Regions from separate parts of the Homo sapiens genome. Here region 1 is linked to region 2. Evidence: fine-mapped expression QTL. A gene starts in region 2. The other region holds a variant in brackets. All regions are shown on one strand. Distances are from middle to middle.

What was found.
Region 1: its variant is fine-mapped to the expression of MED24 in sigmoid colon (GTEx, PIP 0.97).

What each region holds. Positions count from the first base shown.
Region 1 is chr17:40,025,799-40,028,706 of GRCh38, reverse strand. MED24 (mediator complex subunit 24) reads left to right here. Exons shown (of 26, transcript NM_014815.4): 15 at 761-798; 16 at 1,242-1,324; 17 at 1,673-1,851; 18 at 1,961-2,060; 19 at 2,376-2,551. MIR6884 (microRNA 6884) reads left to right here and starts at 2,298; the gene lies at 2,298-2,375. It overlaps SNORD124 (small nucleolar RNA, C/D box 124), which reads left to right and starts at 1,062; the gene lies at 1,062-1,165. RefSeq lists an enhancer at 1,150-2,060. The variant A/CA (reference allele first, on the strand shown) is at 1,455.
Region 2 is chr17:40,052,978-40,055,885 of GRCh38, reverse strand. MED24 (mediator complex subunit 24) reads left to right here and starts at 1,478. Exons shown (of 26, transcript NM_014815.4): 1 at 1,478-1,525; 2 at 2,251-2,417; 3 at 2,506-2,588. The coding sequence starts at 2,288. RefSeq lists an enhancer at 1,219-1,278.

The DNA.
Region 1 (2,908 bases), 27 kb after region 2:
GCAGAGCATCCTGGCTGGAGATCTTGGAGGAAGGGCCTGTTCTCACGACCTAAGTGTTCCTTTCTCTTCAGCTGAGGATGGAGTGGACATGTTTGGTAAAGAGATGAGGGTAAGGGTTGAGGTGTTGAACATTGGGCATGGAGGAATTCCAAGTATGCCCAGTTATTAATAAGGGGCTCTCAAATTCTGTTGCCTTTTTTGATTGCCCTGGAATTTGACATATATAGAACATGGTTCCATTCAGTGAGCCATTCTCTAGGCCTTGGAAATCTTCTAACAATAAAAATCCTTCTGGCCGGGTGCGGTGGCTCACGCCTGTAATCCTAGCACTTAGGGAGGCCAAGGTGGGCGGATCACCTGAGGTCAGGAGTTCAAGACCGGCCTGGCCAACTTGGTGAAACCCTGTCTCTACTAAAAATACAAAAAATTAGCCGGGTGTGGTGGCGGGCACCTGTAATCCCAGCTACTTGGGAGACTGAGGCAGAAGAATTGCTTGAACAGAGGCGGAGGTTGCAGTGAGCTGAGATTGTGCCACTGCACTCCAGCCTGGGTGACAGAGCGAGACTCTTTCTCAAAAAAAACAAAAAAAAAACAAAAAACAAAAACCACAAAAACCTTTTTTCTATAGCAATGTGTCTCATTTTAAGTTTAACCAGTAACTCAGACTCTAGCTATCGCTCTCTGAACATGTGTAGCCCCAGCGCCCAGCTACTGCTCAGCTCATGCCCTGGTCAATGCAGCCTGTCTCCATTCCTTTCAGTTTGAATGAATTCACAACCTATGGCAGCGAAGAAAGCAGTAAGTCAGCCCTGTGCATCCGCAGGCCCAGTGGGCCCTGAGGAGGGGTGTGGCGGGAGAGTGTGGGAGGGAGGAGGGCTCCCCAGCTCAACAGGGGGAGGCTGTGCTCCCTCCTCAGAGCCATGACCAATGGAAGCTTCCACAGAGCTTGAAAGTGGATAATGCTGGAAAAGGATTCTTCCCAGACCATCCCTGTGTCTCCTTCCCCCCCTCATCCCTTTACGACTTGGTTAGGTATGCCAGGAGAGGGTGCTGGGGGTCTTTGGTCTCAAGGAAGGGATGATGTTCCAGTTGAGACTCAAGAAAAGGATTCTGAGCCTCAGAGCTTTGAAGGAGCCACTTGGTCCCTGACCTTCCTAGAGGCAAATCCCGATCCCTGTCAACCCAGACACGGGCTCCCCCCTGCCCTCGTCTGGGAGCTCAGCCTTCCCGTCCTTCCACAGCCAAACCGGCCTCCGTCCGGGCCCTGCTGTTTGACATCTCCTTCCTCATGCTGTGCCATGTGGCCCAGACCTATGGTTCAGAGGTGAGAGAGGGGAGCGACCGGGACGGGGGCTCAAGGGAAGGAGGTAACCCGGAACTCTCCCCACCTCACTGCCTGCGCCCCCGCAGCCTCTCAGCCAGTTAGTTCTGTGGGCCTCAGAAACCAGGTGCCC[A/CA]CCCGGGCTGGAGTCCGTAGAGGCACCTTCAGCCCTATGTTCACATTGACCACTAGGTGGCAGCATTGCCCCCGTCTGGCTCCCTTAGACCAGTTCGTCCCCAGTCTTTGGGCTGGGCTGGAGCAGCAGCCTGGCGGGAAACAGTGCAGCCCCAGGTCCAGCGCTGGCAGGCGCCGCGCCCTCCCCACTCGGCTGGTGCCCCCCTTCCCCTTTCCCAGGTGATTCTGTCCGAGTCGCGCACAGGAGCTGAGGTGCCCTTCTTCGAGACCTGGATGCAGACCTGCATGCCTGAGGAGGGCAAGATCCTGAACCCTGACCACCCCTGCTTCCGCCCCGACTCCACCAAAGTGGAGTCCCTGGTGGCCCTGCTCAACAACTCCTCGGAGATGAAGCTAGTGTCAGTGGCCCGGGCGCCCACTCCAAGGGTGGCGGTGGGGGCAGGGTCAAGACCCGCTCCCTGAGCCCGTTCCTTGCTCCCCTGTGCTGACTTCTCTGCACACCCGCAGGCAGATGAAGTGGCATGAGGCCTGTCTCAGCATCTCAGCCGCCATCTTGGAAATCCTCAATGCCTGGGAGAATGGGGTCCTGGCCTTCGAGTCCATCCAGGTAGCCCCGCCTTCCCAGCAGCGTTTGCTCCCCTGAGACACAGAGCCAGCCAGTGATGACTTGTTATATTTCGTAAGGGCAAGAAGACCTTTAATCCAGGAGCTCATGTTTTGATATTGATATTTTGTGTAATCGTTGTCTTAGCTACTCCCTCTGGCCCAGGTAGCTCTGGGAAGATCAAACTTGTGGAGAGAGGTGTGGAATGTGGCCCGGGACTCCACCCGCTGCACTTAGCTGCCCGCAGAGGCTGAGAAGGTGATGTTGGCTCAAGAAAGGGAGATAGATGGTAGCCCATCACCTTTCCGTCTCCCCTAGAAAATCACTGATAACATCAAAGGGAAGGTATGCAGTCTGGCGGTGTGTGCTGTGGCTTGGCTTGTGGCCCACGTCCGGATGCTGGGGCTGGATGAGCGTGAGAAGTCGCTGCAGATGATCCGCCAGCTGGCAGGGCCACTGTTTAGTGAGAACACCCTGCAGTTCTACAATGAGAGGTCGGTAACCTGCCTTCCCTTCTCAGACCCTTCAAGTGTGTTGTGAGAAGTCAGCACATCCAATAACAAGCACCCCTCTCTTTTCTGACCTTCGCAAACACGCTACTTGATCACTCACTCACTTTCCTATTCATGCATTCACTCATCTGACTCAGCAAACATGTACTGTGTCTCTGTGGCAGAAGCGTTTATATGCCAGCACCTGCTGTGTTGTCAGAAATGCAGACCCTAAACAGGGTCTGCCCGCAGAGACTCAAGTTCTAGACAACTAGCTCCCAAAAGAACAAAGCTGTGTGACTGTCTAGGAGCTAGGAACCTGTCTGTAGATTTTACAGGCCATGCCCCACCCTCAGTTAC
Region 2 (2,908 bases):
TGGCACACGCCTGTAATCCCAGCTACTTGGGAGGCTGAGGCAGGAGAATTGCTTAAACCTGGGAGGCAGAGGTTGCAGTGAGCTGAGACTGCGCCATTGCACTCCAGCCTGGGCAACAGAGCAAGCCTCCATCTCAAAAAAAAAAAAAAAAAGAATCTTTGTTGAGGAATACAGATTGAGCTTGAACTTGTGAACTAGGATATTGGGCCCTGGCTAAAGGCCTCCATGTTTATTTATTTATGTATTTTGGTAGAGCTGAGAGTCTCATTATGTTGCCCAGGCTGGATTTGAACTCCCGAGCTCAAGTGATCCTCCTTTCTCAGCCTCCCGAGTAATTTACTCTTATTCCTGGTTGTAAATGTTAGGGATGACCAGTCCATAGCATGGGGAGGGATGAGGGCTATGCATAAGAAGGCTCAGACATTGGAGCCTCCAGAGGTGGGTAACATTTGCTTTCGGGTTTCTCACTGGGGGAAGGAAAGGCTATGGCCAAAGCCCTGGGCATAATTTATATATGGATCTTTGGGATAAGCAAGATTTAAACAACAACAACAACAACAACAACAAGAAACTTAAAAAAACAAGTTTTTAATTTACAGGAAAAAAATGGAAGGTAATAGAGGGTCCCCACATATTCTGCACCCAATTTCTCTTTTTATTAACATCTTAGCATTAGTATTATGCATTTGTAACAACTAATGAACTAATATTGATACATTATTATTAATTAAAGTCCACCCTTTATTTAGATTTCCTTAGTTTTTACCCAGTATTCTTTTTCTCTTCCATGATCGCATTCAGAAAACCACATTACATTTAGTCATCAGGTCTCCTTAGCCCTCTTAGTTGTGACAGTTTCTCAGAATTCCTTTGATTTTGATCACCTTCACCTTAGTTTCCTCTTTACTTTCCCTTGTATCCAAGCTGTATGGAGGGCCTGGAGATTCTGATAGGACTGTAAGATTCGGGGACGGTGATATGTGTGCAACTAAGGCACCTCGGTGTCGCTTTTAGAATATAGTTGTGGAAATGAGAATAGCTCTGGTAGCTCCAGGGGCTTAGGAGAACAGAAAGAGCCCAGGAAAGGAGAAAGACCTTATTGCTGAACGCCACACCCTTGCCCCCACGCCACACCCTTGCCGCACCTACTAACTAGGGGCTAACGAATGAAAGGGTGTCGGAATATGATGGAGAAGCCCGGTCGACAGTGACGTCGTGGGCGACGCCGGGTTGTGAGCGGCCTTTCGAGCTCCCTCGAGTCCCTGAGTCTCTGTAGTGCCTCAGCTCCTGGATGTCCTCCCTTAAAGGAGAAGAACAATGCGGGCCGACTAGACGAGTCCCTTAGTTTCCTCGCCGGCGCAGACAAATACGGTTTCAGTCCAAGGAACTACCATTCCCAGAAGACAGCGGGGCGTTCCTTGCTGCATTTCTATTGGTTGGCGTTTGTTACTCCCAGCCAATAGAAAGTGAGCTTCTTGACAAGTGCCAAAATGGCGATGCCTACCACCTAGAACTGGATTGTGCGGTAGGCTTAAATTTGGGGAGGTGGTGGATGAAAAGGAAATTGGGAGGTATAGTTACAGGGCTGGAGAAGGTGGAGGAAATGAGGGAGCAAATCTGGACTTGGAATGGTGGTGGCCAAGGGACGCTTTTAGAGCTAAGGGCGTAATTAGGCAACCAGGACTGCCTTAACTCCTTGATGCCCTGTTTAATCTATTAGTCCCTTTGATACTTCTTTATTCATTTATTTGAGAGACGGAGTTTTGCTCTTGTTGCCCAGGCTGGAGTGCAATGGTGCGATCTCGGCTCACCCCAACAACCTCCGCCTCCCGGGTTCAAGCGATTCTACTGCCTCAGCCTCCCGAGTAGCTGGGATTACAGGCATGCACCACCAAGCCCGGCTAATTTTGTATTTTTAGTGGAGACGAGGTTTCTCCATGTTGGTCAGGCTAGTCTCGAACTCCTGACCTCCGGTGATTCGCCCGCCTCTGCCTCCCGAAGTGCTGGGATTACAGGTGCGAGCCACTGCGCTCGGCCGATACTTTCTTAGTGCCCCAGTTTAAGGAAGGGCGGTTCAGGAGGAGAGAGTCTGACAGGATCTTACTTTATCCCTTTAGCTCTTTTTCTTTCAAATTCCTCTGTCTCGCTTAAATCTTCCCGCATCTTCTCCTTTCTATTTAATTCTGCCTTCCCCGGTTCTCCTTAGAACCTCATGTCCTTTTCTTTAGCTCCATTTCTTTCACCTCAAAGCTGGCCGCCACCGCTGCCACCTGCTCAGAGTGAAATAATGAAGGTGGTCAACCTGAAGCAAGCCATTTTGCAAGCCTGGAAGGAGCGCTGGAGTGACTACCAATGGGCAATCAACATGAAGAAATTCTTTCCTAAAGGAGCCACCTGGGATATTCTCAACCTGGCAGGTCTCAAGTGAACTGGGAAAGAAAGATGGGAGGGATAAACCCAGAGAAGTTGTAATCACTCAGTTGTGTTTTGCTATTCCTCTTGCAGATGCGTTACTAGAGCAGGCCATGATTGGACCATCCCCCAATCCTCTCATCTTGTCCTACCTGAAGTATGCCATTAGTTCCCAGGTAAGCTTCCCGCAAACCCCCACCAAGAAGTGAGAGTTCTGGGGGTAAAAAACTTGGAGTGCATTTGGGCCCCGGTGGTTCATGGCTGTAATCCCAGCATTGTGGGAGGCTGAGGCAGGCGGATTGCTTGAGCCCAGGAGTTCAAGACCAGCCTGCGTAACATGGCAAAACCCAGTCTCTACCCAAAAATACAAAGAGTTACCCCTGCGTGGTGGTGCCCCTGTAGTCCCAGCTACTTGGAAGGCTGAGGTGGGAGGATCACCTGAGCCCTGGGAGGTCGAGACTGCAATGAGCCATGATCCTGCCACTGCCCTCCAGCC